Linked DNA regions of Homo sapiens. The protein of the gene in region 3 purifies or fractionates together with the protein of the main gene of each other region. This does not show direct contact. Each region holds a gene or a part of one and is shown on either strand. Other genes may lie near its edges.

Evidence for each region.
Region 1: the proteins of PLXDC2 (region 3) and VMA22 purify together in Homo sapiens (affinity purification with mass spectrometry; 2 studies listed by BioGRID and IntAct, with this or other methods). This does not show direct contact.
Region 2: the proteins of PLXDC2 (region 3) and UFSP2 purify together in Homo sapiens (co-immunoprecipitation; 3 studies listed by BioGRID and IntAct, with this or other methods). This does not show direct contact.

What each region holds. Positions count from the first base shown.
Region 1 is NC_000002.12:130,338,797-130,346,910, forward strand, and holds the start of VMA22 (vacuolar ATPase assembly protein VMA22), read right to left. Parts: upstream 3,338-8,114; 5' UTR 3,330-3,337; coding exon 3,219-3,329; intron 3,149-3,218; coding exon 3,045-3,148; intron 2,954-3,044; coding exon 2,871-2,953; intron 2,244-2,870; coding exon 2,112-2,243; intron 967-2,111; exon of another isoform or gene 764-966; intron 437-763; coding exon 324-436; 3' UTR 1-323. Other genes in the region: U3 small nucleolar ribonucleoprotein protein IMP4, read left to right, coding at 4,137-4,139, 4,290-4,398, 5,833-5,916, 6,580-6,689, 6,771-6,903, 6,983-7,316, 7,405-7,478, 7,560-7,672. UniProt on the Homo sapiens protein: Accessory component of the proton-transporting vacuolar (V)-ATPase protein pump involved in intracellular iron homeostasis.
Region 2 is NC_000004.12:185,408,597-185,415,964, reverse strand, and holds part of UFSP2 (ufm1-specific protease 2), read left to right. Parts: intron 1-97; coding exon 98-255; intron 256-617; coding exon 618-810; intron 811-2,092; coding exon 2,093-2,239; intron 2,240-3,551; exon of another isoform or gene 3,552-7,368. UniProt on the Homo sapiens protein: Thiol-dependent isopeptidase that specifically cleaves UFM1, a ubiquitin-like modifier protein, from conjugated proteins, such as CD274/PD-L1, CYB5R3, DDRGK1, MRE11, RPL26/uL24, TRIP4 and RPL26/uL24.
Region 3 is NC_000010.11:20,281,106-20,288,841, forward strand, and holds part of PLXDC2 (plexin domain-containing protein 2 isoform 1 precursor), read left to right. Parts: 3' UTR 1-7,736. UniProt on the Homo sapiens protein: May play a role in tumor angiogenesis.

The DNA of each region.
Region 1 (8,114 bases), on a different chromosome or scaffold from region 3:
GTTCCATCATCCAGCCATGAAAGCACAGCTGAGTGATCCAAGAGGCAGTTCCAATTGTTGACTAACGTGTACCTGCCTATGTGAGTGTGTCCTATGGGAACTCAGGCCTTAGAATGGTTTCAAAGTAGTGGCTTTCAAAATTACTGTTTGCCTCTTCAAACTTCACACCTAAGGAAAATGGAAACATGCAGAGCAGGGACACAGAAGGGGCATTAGCTGGCGTGGGGTAGGGGCAAGAGCTAATTGTGAAGGAAGAAGGCCTGAGATCACGTAGCCATGTCGGAGAACAGCTGTGCTCGCTGCCCTGCCTCTTTGCGCGCATGTCAGGCAGCCCCAGGCTCCAGCTGCTTGAGTTTCTCTTGGAGTCCCCGGAGCTGGCTTCGACCCCAGTCAATGCGGTTCTGGAGGCTGGCTATGTCTGCGGCCAGCTGCAGGCCTGGAGGAAAGGAGAGAAGGTCACCATGGTATCTGTAGTGTAACACACGACCCAGGAGGATCTGGATATCCCCAGAAATTGGAAAGGCTTCAGGCCTCTCTGCCCCCCACACTTGTCCCAAAACATTCCAGGTACGGCCCTGCATTGGCTGCTCCAGAACCTCTGAGGCCTTACACCTCCTTCAGGTCTTTGCTAAAATGTCACCTCCTTAGACTTCCTGGACCCATTATATCACCCACCAGGAACTAAAAATTCACAGATAGTAATACCATTTCATGCCCTCATTTCCTTCCTTCCCCCATTATTACAGCATCTCTCTGCCCTCACCTGCTCTCCCTCCACTTCTTTTCTCTGTTAGTCCACACTCTGGATCCACCTCTAGATGGCTTTTGCTGATGTCTCTGCTGGAACAGCTGCTGCCCAGTCCTCCGGGCAGCTCTCGTCTTCGGCCTCCTGTTCAGCAGCAGGGCTGACCACACATTGGATCACTCGCTCCAGGAAACACTTTCTCTTCTTGGCCTCCAGGACACCTGCCCCCAGGTGTTGCTCCTCAGTTTCCTTGACTGGCTTCTCCCCTCTTCTCCCTCACCTCCCGTCCATACTCCCCAGGCCCTCTGCTGATCTCATCCTATCTCAGCTTTAAACCAGTGTTTGTGTCAAAAACTTTGGAATTTAAACACCAGTGCTATGCAGTGGACTCCCAAATCTCTCTCCAGCCCAGGCCTCTCCCAAACTCCAGATACATGTGCCCAAGTGCCCACTCAGACTCTCCAGCAGGGCGTCGGTGGATACCACACAGACCACACCAACTCCTGCCTTCTGGAATCCTCTCAGCTGCCCACAGCAGGTGAGGGTCGCTCCATCCTCCCAGGGGTTCTGGGTGGAGACCGCAGGCTCTCCTGGACTCCTTTCCTTCCCTTACTCCCATATCTTATCTGTCAGCAAATTCTGGGGCTTCTATTCTTAAAACCTGTGCAGGTTCCCACCACTTACCTCCTCCTCCAGTGACGCTATCTGCTTCTCACACTGGCTGCTCCCTGACACCTACTTCCTCCCTCTGCTCTGTGTCCCCGCCCAGCACCCAAGCATTCCTGTGACCCTGTACAGCCAGTTGCACCATCCTCTGCTCAGAGCCTCTCTGTGGGTCCCACAGTCTTCATCAGGGCTTACATCACCTGACTCCACTCTAGGCCACCGGCCTCGGCACATACCAGATATATCTGGCTTCAGGGCTTTTGTCCTGGCTGGTTCCTCCATCTAGAGCACTGTTCCCCAAAATCACCCACAAAGCTTTTCCTTCACCTCCTCAGAGAGACCTCCCCTGGCCCACTCCTGTCCCACTCCATTATGTGTTTTTCATAACAATTTTCACAGCCTGACTTATGTTAAGGGCCTACTTATTTGCACGTTGCCTTTGTCTGCTTCTAAACATTACATGAAAAGTGTTTGTCTCTTTTGTTCCCTGCTGTATCCCCAGCAGCTAGCATGAACCCGAATGCTGCCAACAACCAGTAAATGCTTTTGGAAAAAATAATGGGTGTACAACGGAAGTTTGGATGGAGGAAAACCTGCAAAGCCTTTCACAGACTAACCCCAGCCATGGCAGCAGTGCTCAAGTGTTCCCTGTGGATAGAGGGTCTGAGGGCCACAGAGCCAAACAACACGGTCCACTCACCATCCCGGAAGCTTGCTTGAGCCTGACGTAGACTGTGAGGAACTAGGATTCCAAACCAGTTCAGGGGGTCCTGAGGGGCCTCAGAGGACTCCGGTTCTGGGGTCTTAGTGGGGCCCTTGCGCCTCCGCAGACCTGAGGAAAGAAAGGTTGGAGGAGGCTGGGATCTTACTCCCTGACCTTTATCATCTTGGTGACAATGTTGAGCTTGATCTGAGCTCATGATTCTATAAAACACTGTTGGTTGGAAAATTCCAACTTTGGGGTTCCAGGAAACAGCTTACCACAAAACACAGCCTTTCCCCTTGTGATTCAGATGAGACTGTTTGTCCACTCTTTCCCGTGACTCCTGTAAGACCCACTGATGACCCTGTTTGCCTGTGACACTGATCTTACCCATTGTACCTGAACATGCCAACAGACCAGACATAGACGTTCCAACTCCCCATTCTTTGTCTCAGGATGATTAACTGGGATTAGAAGTTTGTCCCTCTGAAACTAGCTAGACACACAGATAAATATTTTCTGTTCAGCTGACTGAAATGTATGTGATTGTAAATCTATTCCCAGTGTAAAGCAACTCACCAACAATTTCTCTACTTCCTATAAAAGTCTAAGGCAAAACCACCCTACAAAAACATTCTGTTCTTCTGCTCTGGGATGCTCTCTCTTATCGCAAAAACCTAATTTAAATCATCTCCATAATTTGCATTTTGTCTTTGACACTGGGAAGGGGTTCTGCAGAAGGAAGAGGGGGCTCACCTGCTTCGCGAGGCCCCACCTCCTCTGGGGCGTGGACACCAGCTCTCACCACCTTGAACTTCTGGAGTCCCTCCTGGGCCTCGCTGAAGGACGAGAAGGGAGGATGGAGCTTTGGCAGCCCGGGCCTAGAACGCGCCCGCCCGCCCACCCAGCCCAGCATGGAAGCTTCCTCACCTGGCGTGGAGGCAGACCTGGGGCTCCATGTGGGAAGCATACTGCAGGGGCCCTACCGACTTGGCGCCCATCGCGTAGCGAGCCTTGGCGAGCGAGAGCCAGCCCTGCAGGGAGAGGAAAGCGGTGAGACTCAGTTTACGCCCGTGTACCCTCCTGCCCGCCCCAGGCGCCTACCTCCTCCACCCGGGCGTTCAACACCGTTCGTTTCCCCTCCAGCTCCTCCAGGTCCCCAAGCAGCTGCAGGACCAGCGAATCCAGCTCCGCTCGCAGGTCAAGCGCCGCCATGGACACACCTCCAGATCTGGAGCCACCTTCTTCCTTGTCACCCTCCGCAGTTTGGCAGGACAGCCAATAGGCACACGAGATCCTCCATCAAGGGGCGTTCCCATCTGGGGATCCCCACGCCGGCAGCACCAAGGCCTCTGGGTCAGCTTCTTTAAGGGCAAGCGCCCTTAGAGAAGCAGCACGGAAGCAACCAATCAACTGGTTTCTCCAATTAGCCCCCAAGTGGATCAGCCTGCTGAACTGTCGGCTAGGGTTATAGGTGGTTCTGAGTCCTTCCGGAAGCTGCCGAATCTTAGAAGTCGCGCCACTGTTGTGGCGATGGAAGAAGGCGAAGCTCTACAGAAACCATTTTGGTTGAGGGAAGAGTGGTTTTAAAGTTAATTTGGAAAGGAGCCGGCAAGCAACCTTCAGTCGGTGTGCGGTTTTTACAGTTGAACTGTTTCCAGCCGCTAATTATGATTGTTTTAGCGGTTCGTCATCTGAAAACTGCATTCTGCACGGCGGTGGTGGGGGGAGGACGAGGATGGAGAAGCCTGGGCGGACATATTTATTAGCTGCGGTCCTAAGTCACGTGTGACATTCTGTATCCAGTCTATCGGTTATCCCAAGGAGAACGCCCTGCCGGAATGGCCAATCGCCTTGAGATGTCCCCGCCCTATTCGCCATCTTAACATAGGGCATTCCCCACAGCTGCAGGCACCAGTGAAGCGTCTAAGGGACCATCTTGGTTGAGGGCGGAAGTGAGGACTGTGTCGCGCTGGAGGAGCCCACAGATTCTCCCGGACCCACGTGGAAGCGGCACTCAAGATGGTAGGAGAATGAGCTCCTGTTTCGGAGGTCCGGGGCGCGTGAAGTGCTGGGGATGTGGCTCTGGGGACTTGGAGGCTCAGCGGCTCCGGGGCTCCGGGGTTCCGGGGCTCGGGAGCGAGTAGTGAGTGACTGGGCCTGCTGTTCCCACAGCTGCGCCGCGAGGCCCGCCTGCGCCGCGAGTACCTGTACCGCAAGGCCCGGGAGGAGGCGCAGCGCTCAGCCCAGGAGAGGAAGGAGCGGCTGCGGCGCGCGCTGGAAGGTAAGGCATCGGCCCCGCGGGCGTCTGCGTGGTAAACCACCCCGGCACGCATTTGTGTTCGAATATCCGAGCGTCTTTCCAAATGCTTGCCGGCCGTTTTCCTTGCCCATTGGGTTCTCCTGTTGGTTTTGAGAGTGTTTCTTCCGTGTGATGGTATTAATTACTTGTCACTGACGTTGCAGTACCCGGGTTTTGCAGCTTGCCCGCTGTGTGCAGTGTGTCAAGTTCGTCCCAAGTTTTAAAGACTTTATCTTGTCCTGTAGAAATTCTCTTTAGAGCGGTGGCTCACTGCTGTAATCCCAGCACTTTGGGAGGCCGAGGCGGGCGGATCATGAGGTCAGGAGTTCGAGCCTGACCAACATGGTGAAATCTCGTCTCTACTAAACATACAAAAATTAGCCGGCCGTGGTGGCACGCGCCTGTAATCCCAGCTACTCAGGAGGCTGAGGCAGGAGAATCGCTTGAACCCGGGAGGCGGAGGTTGCAGTGAGCCGAGATCCTGCCACTGCACTCCAGCCTGGGCAAAAAAGCAAGACTCCGTCTCAAAAAAAAAAAAAAAAAGAAATTCTCTCTAAAGACTATCTGGATAGCGCTGGTGCTGCAGACTGCGCTGCCCATCCTCCCTGCAGGAGTTCCTCTGAGCTCCGTGGGGAACAGTGCTGGCCCCGAGTGCGCACCTGGAGCGCTGTGCTCTGCGGTAGGCAGCCTGTGGTCCAGGGCCCGCTGAAGCCATGCCTTCGAAGCGCTGTGGGCATCGTGACCAACGGTTTTGCTGTCTGAGAGCTTAAAGGTCTCTGGTCCACCATCATACGTACAGAACAGTCTATATTTCTTTTCAAAAGTAATTTTTAAGGCCGAGCGCTGTGGCTCACGCCTGTAATCCCAGCACTTTGGGAGGCCGAAGCGGGTGGATCACGAGGTCAGGAGATCGAGACCATCCTGGCTAACACGGTGAAACCCCGTCTCTACTAAAAATATAAAAAATTAGCCGGGCGCCGTGGCGGGCTCCTGTAGTCCCAGCTACTCGCCAGCCTGAGGCAGGAGAATGGCGTGAACCCAGGAAGCGGAGCTTGCAGTGAGCCGAGATGGCACCACTGCACTGCTCTGCCTGGGTGACAGAGCGAGACTCCGTCTCAAAAAAAAAAAAAATCGATGTTTAGATTTCTACCTGATTATAAAAGCAATACAGTACATTAAGATATTTTAGAAAGTCCTCAAGTCATGAGACTAAAGAAAATGAAGTCCTAGTAACCACTGTTTATGGGGGTTGGCCTGTAGAAAGTTTTGTCACCTCTATCCATGCTTTATCCAAGCTCAGAAAGGGCTGAGGTATTTTTATTTCAAGCATGTGCAGGCTAATAAGCTGTGGTGTATTGGATGAGCTGAGGTCTCCATGCTTGTGACTCACTCAGCCCCTCTCTCTTCCCTCTGCAGAAAACCGCCTGATTCCCACTGAGTTACGCCGAGAGGCTCTGGCCTTACAGGGGTCCCTGGAGTTTGATGATGCTGGAGGTGAAGGTAACTATACAAGGTAGCCCTCCCCAACACTGAGCTGGCAGGTCTCCAGTCCTTCCTCAGACACACCGGGCACCATCCCATCAGAGGAAACTGCTCCTGGAACTGTCCCCCATGCCCTTGTCACTGCACAGATGGCATTGCAGGGCTCTCCCTGAGTGTGCCCTGTCCCACTTACATGGCACACATGGGAGTGCCTCACTGACTCTGCACCTGGCTTGTTAATTACCTCCCCCACTGGAGTGCCTGCTGGGGAAAGACAGTGTCCCTCACACATTATTGGTGCCCATACGTTTATTCACTGCATTATTCAAGAAACAAGAAAGGAATCCCAAACATTATAGATATTTGTTACGAGGGAAAAGAGTTTGTCACCGTTGGCCTTAGCAGAGTGTGGATTTCGTTGTGTAATGGAGTAGCTGCTTAGCCCCATGTGACTAATATAGCTTAAGCAAACTACAATTAAACAAAAGATTCTGTTTCTCAGCCACGCTTGTGCTCAGCAGCCAGAGTAGTTGGAGGCTGCCCTCTTGCCCGGTGTGCATGTGGAGCATTCCTATTGTTGAAGGCTTCGGCAGACAGCGACATCCAGGCGGTCTTGGCTGCCCCGAAGTTAGCATTTCATTCCCAAGACTGTCATGTTCTTGCCCCTCGTGCTCCTGACAGGTGTGACCAGCCACGTGGATGATGAATACCGATGGGCAGGAGTCGAGGATCCCAAGGTTATGATCACTACCTCCCGAGACCCCAGTTCCCGCCTCAAGATGTTTGCAAAGGTACTGGTGAGCAGGGAGTGAGGGAGAGACACCCAGGACACACAGCCCCAGTCCTGACTGTACACTGCCATCCACGCCCAGGAGCTGAAGCTGGTGTTCCCGGGCGCCCAGCGAATGAACCGAGGTCGACATGAAGTGGGGGCACTGGTGCGAGCCTGCAAAGCCAACGGCGTCACCGATCTGCTGGTCGTTCACGAGCATCGGGGCACACCTGGTAAGGCCGGAGGGAGGGAGTCGGGGTGGGAGCCGTCTGAGGGCAGACGGGGTCTCTGACAGCCACCTTTCCCCGCCAGTGGGGCTCATCGTCAGCCACCTGCCCTTTGGTCCTACTGCCTACTTCACGCTGTGCAATGTGGTCATGCGGCATGACATCCCAGACCTGGGCACCATGTCGGAGGCCAAGCCCCACCTCATCACACACGGCTTCTCCTCCCGCCTGGGCAAGCGGGTGAGTCTGGGGGCCTTCAGGCTGGGGCTGCGGGCCAGGCCAGGCATTTGCCACTCTGTTTCCCTCTCTTTCCTTGTGCCCCAGGTCTCTGACATCCTCCGATACCTATTTCCCGTGCCCAAAGATGACAGCCACCGGGTCATCACCTTCGCAAACCAGGACGACTACATATCATTCCGGTGGGTCCACGGGCCATGCCCCAGGAAAGCATCCCCACCCTGTGTACCTCGTGCTGCTTGCCGTTGACCCACAGCTGTTCCCTCCCAGGCACCATGTGTATAAGAAGACAGACCACCGCAACGTGGAGCTCACTGAGGTCGGGCCCCGCTTTGAGCTGAAGCGTGAGTTTGAGGCTGAATCCCGTGTCTGGGGTGGGGAGGGGAGGCTGGCTGTGCCGGGGCTGATGCCATCCCTGCCTGCAGTGTACATGATCCGTCTGGGCACGCTGGAGCAGGAGGCCACAGCAGACGTGGAGTGGCGCTGGCACCCTTACACCAATACCGCACGCAAGAGAGTCTTCCTGAGCACCGAGTGAGCACACTCACCACTCAGTCAGGACATGGACTTGGAACTCAGGATGGGGCTGTCATAGACAGACCCACCAGTAGGAACTGTCACAGAATGGCCTGCTGAACTGGGATGTGGAACTGTGGCGGGTGGAGAGGTCTGAATAAACCGTCTGTGTCATGGCCCCGCCTGCCTCTGAGTGGTCAGGCCAAGTCTGCAGGGCAAAGCCCATGGGATCCCTTTGGGTGGGGACCTGATGGCTGTGGGACGTGCTTGGGCCTGGAGTCAGTGTGGGGGTTAACAGAGAGAGAGATTTGATGCTAACGTCCCCTCAAGAGTGAGGGTCATATGAGCTCTTCAGCAGGCAGATGTGGGTAGCAGGGCCAGCCTGTGTCAGGGGCAGCCCACCAAGTTAACTCACTGAGTGGAAGCCGCCAGTGTGCCAACGCGGAGGGGACAGGCCACACCCA
Region 2 (7,368 bases), on a different chromosome or scaffold from region 3:
CTTAATAATAAATACATTTTTGAAAAGTCTTTTTACTTACTCTTTATATTTAGTGTTTAATGCACTACAAGTTGACTATTACTGTTTATCTATATAGCATCAAATAGTAAATATAGATCTTATGCTGGAAATGTCAACCTCCCTGGCAGCTGTAACGCCCATCATTGAAAGGGAAAGCGGAGGACACCATTATGTTAATATGACTTTACCTGTCGATGCAGTTATATCTGTTGCTCCAGAAGAAACATGGGGAAAGTAAGTATTTTTATAGTACCACTGCCACATTTGAATGAGGGCCCTTCCCCAAACCCATGTTTGTATATCCTGTAGGTATACCTAAGGTGTGATTTTCTCCTTGTTTATTATTAACCTAAGAGCCATCTATTAATTAAATGGTTATTTGGAGGAAGTAGGGTAGCATGCTAAAACCTGGAGGATTTCCCTTTATCCACAAAGAGCAAATACACAGTTTCTTTTATAATGTATAATTCAGACTTCCTTTAGCAAACCTGGTCCAATCAAGTTTTTTACTATACTAAGGATATATTAGCTCTGTACTTTTCTTTATTGTAGTCACTATAACTTTTGTTAATACACTTATATATTTCCCCCCACAGAGTTCGTAAACTCCTGGTTGATGCAATTCATAATCAACTAACTGACATGGAAAAATGTATTTTGAAATATATGAAAGGAACATCTATTGTGGTCCCTGAACCACTGCACTTTTTATTACCAGGGAAAAAAAATCTTGTAACAATTTCATATCCTTCAGGAATACCAGATGGCCAGCTGCAGGCCTATAGGAAGGTAAAACCAGTTCATCTATTCTTAGAAAAAACAATAATGACTATCATTCATTTTGTATTTAATTATATATTTCCACTAAATGGAAGGTATTTTGTGATTTAACTTAAAAGTGTGGAATTTAGACTATTCATTTTACACATTATTTAATTTCTGTTCTCATGAAACTTTAAGTAGTATTAATGACAAAATGTTATGTTGAACCTATATGTAACATTTTAATTTTAAATGCTCGGTGTGGTTCATATATTCTGTGAAATTTTAATATTTTTCCATAATGAAATATAGAAATGGTGCTTACATGCCTAAAGTTGCTGGTATTAACAGATTTCTATAACTTTCCGATTTGTGAAAGAGACAAGATTACAGTTAGGGAAGGAAAATGATAACTTATGCTAATTCTGAATAGGATTTATGGTAATACTCCACAAGTAAGGTTATTTGGGCTTTATTAGAGGAATTTTGGAGAAAACATGACCAGCATTCAAAGTAATGAGATTTACTCATGACTGGTTTTGGAGTGCATCTTTTTGATATGTGGACTCGCTTAGAACCTATCAAATTAGACCGTGGAGCATCTTCCTAATTTCTGTCCTTAGGGAGAGCGAGAATACCCTGACCCTCTGTATGTGGAGGTGACTTGGTTTGTAGAAGCAATAGCTACAGGAGCTGATCTTTTAAAACCACTGGAGTACAAGATATGATAAAGAACATGTCAAACTTTTTAAAATACCTATTACATGTTTTTATATAGTTGGGAAAATAACACATTTTAAACATATATGTGTATTTGTTTTCCTGCCATATTGGTTGGCTTTAGACCACTAACTTCTACTCTGTAGTTTAATCACTACCACTTACAATATAAAATATTTGTAAGGCACTCGACACAATTTTGCAAAATACTTTGATATAATTATTGTTAATTATAATTTACTCATTTACAAGGCTATTTCAAAACCAGTCTTTAGCCTGGATGTATTTTAACAGACTATGTTGTAATAAATAATTATTTAAAAATTAGTTCTCTTACTCTAACAATTTATATTCATTTTTCTCTGTTCCCTTCCAGTTTCTACCCAGATACAGACGTAAACGAAAATAAATCTTACTTGGTTTTAGTTCAGTTTTCACCATCTTTGATGTTAGTGAATTAAACCATAAGTGTTTGGAAACTTTTATAACCTATATATAATTTTCCATGTTTAATAACATCTTTATTTATTGACTAGGAATCTAAATCACCAACATTTTTTCTTTTTCTGTTGATTCTGATTTATTTTAGGAGTTACATGATCTTTTCAATCTGCCTCACGACAGACCCTATTTCAAAAGGTCTAATGCTTATCACTTTCCAGATGAGCCATACAAAGATGGTTACATTAGAAATCCACATACTTACCTTAATCCACCTAACATGGAGACTGGTATGGTGAGTTTAACTAATTATTTATGGGAGTCACTGGATCAGTAATGTTATTAGTTGTTTTTTGTTGGTACCCAGTAGGAGACTTGATTCATTATGTATTCATTCCTAAAACATGATTTATCACCCATCTCTGTTAACAGACATTGCTTAAGATAGCAGTAATTAAAAATGGTCTAGAAAAGTTAGTAATAGGTAGATATACCACATTTATCTTACTAAAATTCTCTTATTTCTTTAAAGGCTTGTCCCATTTTTTTTCATTCTGAACCTGAGAAATCATGCTAATTAAGGGCATAGTCTACCCAAACCACACTGTAGGATAAATCTTTTTTTGTTTTTTTGAGACAGAGTCTCGCTCTGTCACTCAGGCTGTAGTGCAATGGTGTGATCTCAGCTCACTGCAACCTCCGCCTCCTGGGTTCAAGCAATTCTCCTGCCTCAGTCTCCTGAGCAGCTGGGGTTACAGGCACCTGCCACCACACCTGGCTAATTTTTGTATTTTTAGTAGAGACAGGGTTTCACCATGTTGGCCAGTAGCTAGGGTTACAGGCACCTGCCACCACACCTGGCTAGTTTTTGTATTTTTAGTAGAGACAGGATTTCACCATGTTGGCCAGGCTGGTCGTGAACTCCTGACCTCAAGTGATCCGCCATGTAGGCCTCCCAAAGTGCTGGGATTACAGGCATGATTCACCATGCCCAGCCACTGTAGGATAAGTCTAATGAGGAACTAGACTTATTTTCCATGTAACATATACCCGGTTGCCAGGGATAGATCCTCCCTAAAGGTAGCTCAAATAAGAGTGAATTGGCGGAGGGTGGTGGAAGGGTTACTTTAAGGATACATGGAGGCCAGTGAGAAAGGACCTTATAAGGCATCCAAGATTAGGAATACCAATAGAGCTGGGCCTCTTAGAAACAGCAGCCCTGTGACTAGCAGGTGTCTTCAGTCTCTCTCAAGGACTCCGTGGATACCTTGGTGGCATTGCTATTGCTTTCTGTGTATGCTTGTGATCCTAACTGGCCTGTTCTTAACTTTTACTCTGTCTGCTCCACCTCATACCCTCTGTATCCTCACTGTTTCAGCTTGTGTGTCACTTTTTCCTGTTCTTCCTCAGCTGCCCAGTGTATGCCTCATTCCAACTGCATTTCCTGCTCCTGGCTGCCTGGCTAACTCTGCACCTCTCAGTTCAGATTCCCAAGAGAAAGAAAACTTGGCTATCGTATGGTGGCATTTATTAATACCTTCTGAGCGTCCAGGACTTTTGAGGAAATCTTAAGAATTAAAAAAATGCATATACGATACAGTACGTACCCTAGATGAGTTAGGGGCCCACTTGTGGTCTTGGTCATTAGAGTGTACTCAGGGCAGCAGATCATCTGCAAAAGCTGTGGGCCAACCAGCTTCCATAGAAAGTTCCTCACAAAAAGAATAGTTCCTTAGAAGAACCTGGACACACAGAAGGTATTGAATGAGTACTGATTGCTTTTTGACAATAAAATAGGTTCATTATATCTGTATTACAAGGTCGTAAGAAAAATATATACTTTACATATTTATCATGTAATATTTGATATGTACATATAACATATGCAAATTGTAAAGCACAGTGGGGAAATGAATACCAGGGAGCTCCTCCCTAATTTAAGAAGCAAAACTTTACCAGTCTGTGCTCTTTCCCTACCCACTCCTCTGCCTCCTCGACACAGTTCCAGGAGGAACTATTATGGGTTTTGTGTTCATCATTTCCTTCCTTTTTAAAAAGTAGTTTCAGCGTATATGTTACATATCAATCTCAGCAATGTCGCTTTTAGTATTGCATAGTTCTGAGTTTTATAAATATGGTATCATTCTGTACGTAGTCTCTGCAGCTTGCTTTTTCACTCAATATTACATATCAAACATCTCTGGTATTTTGTCTAACCATAGTTAATTATCTTTATGATTTTTTCCAAGTTTTTTTGCTGTTTAGACAATGAACATTCCTATACCTCTCGATACATATGTGCAACAGTTGTTAACATTTTGCTATATCTGCTTCATTTCTCCCTCTTTTTTCCCCCTCTGAACCATTTCAAGGAAAATTATAGATATATTATTTACCCTTAAATACTTTGGCACAAATCTCTCAACAATATAGATGTGCATTCATGAAATAAACTCGGTTTGGTTATGACTCATTATTTTTTATTCCCCTCTGGATTCCATTTGCTAATATTTTACGATTTTTGCATCTATGTTCGTGAATGATACTGGCTTATAATTTTCTTCTCTCATACTGTTCTTATTTTGTTTTTTTATTAGTGATATACTGGTTTACTAAATTAGTTAGGTTAATGTTCCTTTTTTAGTTTTTTAGAGAAGTTTATATAAGAGTGGTATGATCTTTCCTTGGTCATTTGGTAAAACTTGCCTGTAAAACAATTTTGGCGTAGCATTTTCTTTGTGAGAAGATTTTTAGTAACCAATTTAGTTTTGGTAACAGCTTTAGGACTTTTTGATTTTTATAAGTTATTTACCTAGGTTTTAATATATCTTGTAGTCATAATATTTTCTTTTTCATTCTTCATATCATTTTTATGCCTTGTGTCTTTTAAAAAAAAAAAAACTTTTGGCTTTGTTGGCCCCCTCTATTATAACTTCTGTATTTGATTTTATTAATTTTTGCTCTTTACTTTCTTTTTTTTTGCTCTTTCTTTGATTTATTGTCTTTCTTCTAACTTCTTAAGTTGGACATGTTAGCTTATTGCTAATATTTCTTTCTTTCTTTTTTTTTTTTTTTGAGATGGAGTCTTGCTCTGTTGCCCAGGCTGGAGTGCAGTGGCACAATCTTGGCTCACTGCAACCTCCGCCTCCTGGGTTCCAGCGATTATCCTCCCTCAGCCTCCCAAGTAGCTGGGATTACAGGAGGGTGCTACCACGCCTAGCTCATTTTTGTATTTTTTAGTAGAGATGGGGTTTCACCGTATTGGCCAGGCTGGTCTCAAACTCCTGACCTCGTGATCTGCCTGCCTCAGCCTCCCAAAGTGCTGGGATTACAGGCGTGAGCCACTGCGCCCGGCCTAATCTTTCTTTTTTTTGAGATGGAGTCTTGCTCGGTTGCCCAGGCTAGAGTGCAGTGGCATGATCTCAGCTCACTGCAACCTCTGCCTCCCTGGTTCAGGCAATTCTCCTGCCTCAGCCTCCCCAGTAGCTAGGATTACTGGCAATAGCCATACGCCTGGCTAATTTTTGTATTTTTAGTAGAGACAGGGTTTCATCATGCTGGCCAGGCTGGTCTCGAACTCCTGACTTTAGGTGATCTACCCACTCGGCCTCCCAAAGTGCTGGGATTACAGGCATGAGCCACCGTGCCTGGACAGCTTTCTTATTTTCTAATGTAAGCTTTTAAATTTCAAGCAAAGCACTGCTTTTAGTGTATCTTATAGGTTTAATTTGAAGGATTTTAGTTTTGTTCACTTCTAAGTATTTTTATATTTTTCTATTATGGTTTTTCTTTTGTCCATGTATTATTTAGAAGTGTTTGTTAATGTCCAAATATGTCAGAATTTATTTTTCTTTTTTGCTTTTTTTTTCTTCTTGTTTTAACTGGTTTCTGACTCTTGCCTCCTGGTCAGAAAGAATTCTAAGTGAAACTAACTCTGAAATTTATTGAAACTTGTATTTGTTCCCTAAAAAATAATAACATATTTGATGGCTTAAAACTACAAAAATGTATTGTCTCAGTTCTGGAGTTCTGAAAGTAGTATCACTGGGCTGACATCACAATGTCAGCAGGACCACCTTCCCTCCATAGGCTCTTGGGGAGAATCCATTCCTTAATCTGATGGCTGCCAGCATCCTTTGGTTTGTGGCCCCATCATTCCGATCTCTGCCTCCTCAGTCACATTACCTTCTCCTCCTATGCCCCTCTCTTTTAAGAATATATGTGATTGCATTTAGGGCACACTAGGATCCAGGATAACCTCCCCATCTTAAGATCCTTAATCACGTCTATGAATACCTTTGCTTTCCTTTTTTCTTTTACTTTTTGGCACAGAGGGTGCATTCACAAGTTCCAGGGATTAGGACATACATACCTTTTGGGAGCCACTTTTCAGCCTGTCACAATGGTCAAGTTATAAATTTTTCTATCTGTGCTTGGGCAGAATATATATTCTCTAATTGTTGGGTGAGGGTTGGTTCTATCTTGTCCCTATCTCCTCTCACTTAATTTTTTAAAAATATCATCAGTTTGGAGCCAGGCATGGTGGTGTGCAACTGTAATCCCAGCTACTCAGGAGGCTGAGGCAGGAGGATCACTTGAGCCTAGAAGTTCAAGACCAACCTGAGCAACATAGTGTGACCCAATCTCAAAAAAATAAAAACAAAAACCCAGTTCTTTAATAAAAAAAGACATATACATTCTTAGCACTATAAGTAAGAATTTATATGATATTAGTAATTTATTTATCTTTATTTTTTGACCCTTAACTTAGCGTCATCAAATAACATACTTGGGCTGTAATCATAGCAGGTTTATAAATTTAGACACATTCTTCCTGTGTCCCATGATATGGACCCTTCATTTGTTTGTTCATTCCTTTATTCCTTCCTTCATTCATTCAGCATTTATTCAGCAGCATTTATATTAACCGTGTGCCAGGCGTGTTGTAGAAGCTTGGGCCCAAAAATGGATAAGACACAGTGTATGTACTCACTGAGCTCACATATTAGTGTAAGTAGGCAGATATTTTTTAAATGATAAGTAATGTATCATTTAAAGTATATCAAGTCATGATATACTTTGAAAAATAAAAACATAAAGAGGACAGAGATGACAGGTGAGGCAGGGGGTGGGGTAGTGAGAGAATGAGTGGGCCGTTTGTAGACTGGATGGTCAAGGAAGACCTTTGACATCTAAATGGAAACCTGAGTGAAGTAAGAGTGCAAGCTGTACAATTAATTTGGGAAAAGAGAGTTCCAGGCCAAGAGAACCATGAGGCTCCAAGGTCATATTGCCCCTGGTATATGGGAACCGAAAGTAGAGGGAGCAATAGGGAAAAGTTTAGGAGATGAAATTGGAGAGGAGGCCAGAAGGTAGGTCCTGCTGGGCCCTGTGGTAAGGACTTTGAACCTCAAATAAAAAGCC
Region 3 (7,736 bases):
CATCATGTTCTTGACTATTTGATCCACTTTTTCGTTTATGTCAACCCCTTCCCTCTCTGGCTAAATAAAGTGGATGCAGAAAGCTCCTTAAATGGAGATATCGATTGCCTTGGAATCACAATCCTGATTTTGAAAATTCCTCATGAATGAAGAAAGGAATGGCATCCCTTGAGAAGGAAAGTGGTTAATATACATACTGAGCTCCTAAAGTTTAAATTCAGGTACTGAGTGTACAATTTCACCAACATTCTAACCCATGAAACTTTTACACTCTGTGCCAAGAAACTGTTGGCTTTTGTAAGGTACAGTGCTCAACATTTGCAGATTCAGGTCTCAAGAAGCAGAGATGTCTCATAAGCAGCATTTTCCCAACAGTTTAGCATCTGTACACATCTGCCTTGGTCATCAGTCCACTCACAGAGTACCATACTTTATCATCACAAGTGTCTGACGTGAACGAATGCCATTTTCTATTCCATATATTTTGCTTTACAATTTTAAGTATTTGATGAAGATGGTAACTTTTTCCTAACTTAGTTAACTATTAAAAAAAATTTTGAAAAGCAAGGTGATTGAAGGATTGTGATGACAATCTCTTTGCAGCAGCTATGTATGGTTTATGTGAAGTATCCCCACTTATTCTTGTGGAGCAGGTTTGGTGAGACAGCAATAACCAAATGACATGCCAATATTACTGGTGCAACTGGTATTCTACAAATGCATAAGGAACACATAGACGACTTCCTTTTAGGATAAAATGATGCTTCTTTCACTACCTTTTGTGGTAGCTGTGGCTTCCAATAGCAACTGTTTGACAGTTATATAAATCTTGCATGTGTATTCTTAGTTTGTGTCCCTTAAGTACTACTTAATTCTCAAGTAGTAATGTTATTCTTATACCCTTCAGCGTTCTATTTTGATTCAAAACAATTGATTCAAAACAATTTTGAATCAATTTTCTATTTTGATTCAAAACAATTGATAATTCTGTAAAAAAACATAAACACTGAATTCTTCAGTGAACCAAAGCAACAAATAATAGAGAAAACTTCTTGAAACTGGAGTGTGGGAAAACTTCTTAACAGAACTAAGAGTTAAAGGTAGTGAGAAGTGTGTGGTGTGTGAATTCTTTAGTGGTAAGGGGAAATGTGGGCTAAATCCTTTTCTTTCATGAAACTCTCATTCTATTTTATATTTCTGGTTTGTTCTTGTTCCCATGTGAGAAAACATACAGTTTCTGAAAATTCAAAATGGTCATCAATGCTTTGGACTTTACATAATTATGTATTAGAGAAGGTGCAACTGTACATTACTTAATATACTATGAACATAATAGAATAACAAAAAAAGATAACAAAGAGATGCAAACTTCTGGATAAATCAGATAAATGGTGCTACAGAGGAATTTAGTTATTTCAGCTTAATTATTTGTAAAAATAATAATCAGTGACTAGGTAAAGATACTGAAACTCAAGAAAAATATCTTGACCCATTTATGTCTAGTGTTCCATTATTGGAACGCTAAGCTTATGGGAGTTATTTAGAGCCTACTGCTCAAGGTCATCACCAAGGTCTGGTTGCAAAAATTCAAAAAATTGCAACCTCAGGCATAAATGGCTTAAGCCCAAGAGATGGCACTGACCATAAATGGTGGCTTGTGTGTGAAGGGTTTGGACTTCAAGATATACTAACACCTAGAAAACTAAAAGTGCAATTGACCCCCAATTACTATTTTAGTTTGAGGTATCAAGGGCATTTGCCAATCTCTTATATGTAGCTTCTAGAGTTGTGCTGTCCAATATTATATCCACTAGCCAACGTGGCTTTTGAAATTAAAATTAATTAAAATTAAATTAAAAATGTAATTCTTCAGTCACACCAGCCACATTTCAAAGGCTCAATAGCCACGCCTGGCTTGTGGCTACCATATTGGATAACAAGAAACACTTCCGTGGTTGAAGAAAATTTTAATGGACAATGCTGTGTTTCATTTGAATTCGTTGTCCTTGAAGAAAAGGGAAGAAGAGGAAAGAAACAAGATTTGGTAGCTCTTGGGCATATCCAAGCATTTTTGATTTTAGAGAGGCCCTATGGAGTAATGAAAAAAATACAAGCTGACACAGCTTTAAATCCCCACTGTGTTATCTTGGGAAAATCACTTCAACCTCCTTGAGTCTCAATTTGCAATTTTGGAAAAGAAAAACAATTTTTGTCCTGTCTTTCTTGCAAGATTATTATGCAACCTGATTAAATGTACAGATGTGCAGACTCTTAAAAACCTTATGTTAATGTAACCCATATAAAGTACGACTTTTGGTCGAGTACCAGCACAAATTTGCATTCAAAGGAAGAATAGTTCATCAGTGCAAAAAGCGTTCAAAGGTAATCAGTTCATCACGTATCTTGAGAAAAAGAGAATGCATTCAAAACACAAAGCAAAATTGCTTCAGTTTCTTTTCTGCCCATCTGAATATTTCCTTTAGTATTTGTCCCACATGACATCCATCCCATGTATTTATCCACTCTTTCACAACATTGCCTATGAACATCCTTCAACTGGCTCAGTTCTTTATTGCATAGAGCCACTTAGCTTCTCTAGTTTCTTATGATTTCCTATTTTACACTTAACAGCAAAAGGAGGCTTCCATTTAGAAGGCACTATCTCAAACATAAATAATTTCATATTTATTTTATCACTGTAACACTAAGGAGCTATGGCATTAAAATATAAAACTATTTGGAACTTAATGTAAACCTTTGCACATGCAGACTATATAAAGGGAATAAAATTATTTTAAATTATGCTAATATCCAGATACATATTCTAAGGTTAGTATCATTTATCAGTTTTTCGCAACAGATTCTTATGTTACATCTTCATGAGGGAGTATAAATTTGATCACGTCCCTAGTGTCTATTGCCCACTTGAGAAAGGTTTTGCCAGGATCCACAGATCGCTTCAAGATGCTTTCGTTTATGATAGGAAATTAATATTTAAATAAGACTAATTGAAAACTAGATTATCTGGTTCTAATTTCTTCCTCCTGTGAAATGTTCTTTTGGTTTGTATTTCTTTAGGTATTTTCCAAGTTACTGCTGCTTTTACTTCACGACCTCCAACCCCACTTTTGTTATCAGCGTCATATGCCAGAGTCATGGCAGATCCAGCCTGGACAACATAGTGAGACCCATCTCTATCAAATATACATATATATATATATATATACACACACACACACACACACACAAATATACATATATATCAAATATATATGTATATTTGATAGAGATGATAGCAATTATGTGTGTGTGTGTGTGTGTGTGTGTGTGTGTGTTAGCCAAGTGTGGTTTCTCATGCCTGTAGTCCCAGCTACTTTGGAGGCTGAAGTGTAAGAGTTGCTTGAGCCCATGAGTTAGAGGCTGCTGTGAGCTATGATCATGCCACTGCACTCCAGCCTGGGCAACAGAGCAAAACCCCATCTCTAAATAAAAAAAAAGAATCGTGAGACATCATGTAATCCAACCTCTTAATGTTACAGATAAGTAAACTGAGGCCCAAAGAGATATAGTAATAGTCCCAGTGTCAGTAAACTGGGTCTTGAACTTAAATGTTTGTTTCAGTTCTCATTGCCTTCATCTCTTAATTGTCGGCACTTAAGGCCAACCAAGCAGCTTAGACAGCGCAGTCCACTCAACGGTAACTTTATTTGCTATATTGACAATCTGCTCTGTTCTGTAATATAGAACATTGGATCAATCTTTATCTTTTTGCTGACTTAAGGAGGCTGCTATTGTTGCAATATCCAGAGATTTCAAGTTCTAGCCATTGCGGGGTCTTTGTGGTGTTTTCAATTTCTCCTCTCTCCACCCCTGCCCCCATCTGTGGCCATCTAAGTTAGCAATACAATTTATTTTGGCCATTTAAAATTTTTCTGCCTTTGTTTTATTTCTTCCCAAATATATTTGAAAATGAATGATCTATATAGCTGATTTTCTGACCACATATATAATTGCAATTTTTATTTGCTCTTCAAACTATTACAACATTTTTGTCCTTATAAGGTTTTTTGGGCAGATAATGCGAGGTCTGTGGTGTTACCTTTTATATACTCCTATTACCTTATGTTTGTGAAGCATTTTACATTTTACAGAGCACTTTGATTCATCTCCCTATTTGTTCATTTATTTAACTGTTCAGTTCACTGAAATATTTATTGAACACCTACTGGAACCAAGTGACTGTGCTAGTAACTTGTGATATACAGTAGTGAGAGTCCAGGCATGTAACCGATCATTATAATACAATAACATCCCTAAACCAGACTTTACAAGTAGATAGGATCAACAATACTCTATCAATTTTCAACTCCAATTTTCTATTCTACTTAAAATGGGAACTAGAAACTGTTTGCCTGAAGAATGTGTCTGAAACATAATATATCACTGCATGTCTGTGCTGTAGACCTGTTAATTTTATCTGTGAGAAAAAAAGTTACTCAAAATTCTCCCTGACCTAAGAATACTTTCTAGTTCACTGCAGTCTTACTGACCAGATGCAACAGTTGAAGTTTGATTTCTCGACCCAATATTTCTATTGGGTTTTGAATTATTAATATCACTGTTTTGAGGTATTCAGAAACACCAGTGTATCAAAAAAGCATTTGCACTTTAGGTGTGTGTGGTGGTTATGTCATTTATTAGACCATCCCAGACATAAGACAATCAGGGAAATCAGAAAACTCCAGCCTCAAATGTGTCTATAATTTCCTGTTCTACCATTGTCATATCATAACATGGTATTACTTCTTAAGGTTTTGATTAAGTTGATCTAGCCTCAACTTAAATTGTAATACATCTGCCTAATTATTGTCTGGAATAACTTTTCAACCATCCAATGCCCACTGCTCTCACAATGATTATTGTAGAGAAGTAAAATGGTAATTATTCAAGTAAAGTCACATAATTTCTGGAGTCAGTTTTTCATAACAAGTTTATGGAATACATCATCATTGGCTTCTTCATAATATATTTATTATGAGTGACCAAATTTTGCCTGGAGGAGCAAAATGCTCAAAACTTGTTATTATAGGTTAATTTCCAGCTCACTGTTGACACTGAAAGATTCTGTGTTACTTTAAACCCAGGATAAAAGGCTGGAAAAAAAATTAAATGTAAGTCATAAACTAGTACTCAGCTTTTCCTAGTTTCTAAGGCTTATTAACATTTGCAAATTACTCAATAAATGTCTTTCATAATGGAATAACATAAAAGCTTTTGATTTGGCAGATAGTGATATTTTATTTATTTTCATTCTGGTTGAAAAAAATCTCAGTGGCTTCTCTTCATTCCACGAGAATTTTGATTTTTAACAGCAGTCTCTCTTTTTCTCAGCATTGCAAATATATATGTATATATACATTCATGACCAAAGTATCGCTTACTGACCATGCAGCTGTAAACCTTCTGTGCCTATCAAACAAATACATAGCATGAAACTAATTTTAGAAGTTTCATGGGGGAATTTTAGGGGAAAGTATAAACCTAAGAGTGAGTGAATGGAGATGATTCATGGAAAAAAAAATAAAAATCTAAATGTGCTATTAGGCAGAGTTATTAACTTCTTTTAGTTGTTGTTTGAGATGGGGTTTTGCTCTTGTTACCCAGGCTGGAGTGCAATGGCGTGATCTCGTCTCACTGCAACCTCCGCCTCCCAGGTTCAAGCGATTCTCCTGCCTCAGCCGCCCAAGTAGCTGGGATTACAGGCATATGCCACTACAGCCGGCTAATTTTGTATTTTTAGTAGAGACGGGGTTTCTCCATGCTGGTCAGGCTGGTCCCCAGCTCCCGACCTCAGGTGATCCGCCCACCTCCGCCTCCCAAAGTGCTGGAATTACAGGCCTGAGCCACCGTGCCTGGCCGAGTTATTAACTTCTTAAGAGCAATGTGCTAATAAATACTCATTGATGACCAGCTCAAATTTAGGTCATTCAGACATCCAGACACTGGGGCACATATTCTGCAAGCAATGCTGAGACCCCTGACATAGAGAAAGCAAAGGATATGCCTATGATTAGTCTAAAATGCAGCCATCACCCCCCATACCTCTTCTATGGCATTCATCCTAACATCATGGAGGCCTTTGTCCTAGAGAATTATGTGACTTGCCCTAGAGAATTAGTGAATGACCAAAAAGAGACTTTCCATTTATCTTCCTTTGACTTAAAAGGCATGAAAATAAGGCAAAAAAATCAATAAAATAATTTTCCTGAGGAAAGGTTAAGAGATGGCACTTTCCTTTCCGGGCCCAGAGCTGGATTTCTCTGAGATTTGACCATCTCAGGACTCAGACAGACTCCAGTGCTATTTTCTGGACATTTGTGGTGAAGCCTCAGCCACCATGTTCAAGGTGGTTTGAATGAAAACATACTCAGATTGTCACATTTATAGCAGGGAAATAAAAACTCAAATTAGGCATCCTGCAGCAGGCTACTCTGAAAATAACATTAGGCAACATCAGAGCTTCACTTGCAAAGAAATGTTAAAATCATTTTAGGGAAATCAGTGAAGTCTCTTTAGAAACAGACATCTTGTGTATGGCGTAACCCAGTCTTGGGGCCCTCACGGAGAAGAGGGGGAAGTCTTTTCATTGATTGGTCAAAACAAATCTCTCATTTGCCTGATTTGAAGCATTTCAACAGTGCCTGGAGAGTACATTATTTTCAGGGGAAAAAAAGGAGAGAGTCTTTTTTATATGCCAGCTGGGATCATGGGAACTTCGAATGCCAGGAATTTACTACTGTTTCTGGTAATTCTGTGTGTAGTCATTTGAAATGTTGAAGTGTGAAAAGAGAAGAAATTGGGCACTTCTTGCGGCGGGGGAGGGGGGGGGGGCGGTGGCTTTCCAGATTTTATGCCAGTTGCACCAGCATGCAGAATATTTGTAATGCATTTCAAAGTGGATATAATGGCACCCTTTGTCAGAATCACAAAGCTCACTGCGGCACTGCTACAAGAGGACACTGAGGAAAATCTGGCCCTATGAACCTAGTCAACCCCAAGCAAAAAGAATGACTATGTGTGTGAGTGCAGCACATGGCCAGTTCGTTTCTCACTGTTTTGGAAAGCCCTGTGTGCCAAACCAAGGACGTGTCTTTCAGGGAAAGGTTAATTTTCCGAAGTTTATTAAAATAGAACTTGGAAAACCAAGCATTTTGAATTTATTCCAGTCCTCTGGGCATCATTCCTATTTCTTCTGCCATGTCAAGGAGAAATTCCAAGCCTGCATTCTGTCATGCTAAAATAACCAGCCCATACTTCTCGGTGACCTTCTGTTGAACGTACCTGAGCCTGCAAATGTAAAAATGATTGTATCTGAATCTGCACTAATGGTGTCTGAGAGCAAAAAGAGTGTGACCTCTATTGGAAACCTTTGTTCAAATTCAATAATTCAGAGATGCTACATACTTCTGCAAGCTTCCTGATTATGTTCACTGTAATATTAATGACCTAAGTTTGAATGTATTTCCTTACAGTCCATTAATTTGACATCCATCTTTTACCTGGGGATTATTACAATTGCAATAAGTCATTAATGTTTTCTTCACACAGCTTCTTAAACCAAGTTTCTCTGCAGCTCTTTCGGTTCTGCTTACAGTGTGTGGGAAATCTGATTTTTTTCCCCTAGTAATAGTTTGATAAGAAATTTAGTGTATTGACTGCCTCAGTGACACAATTTA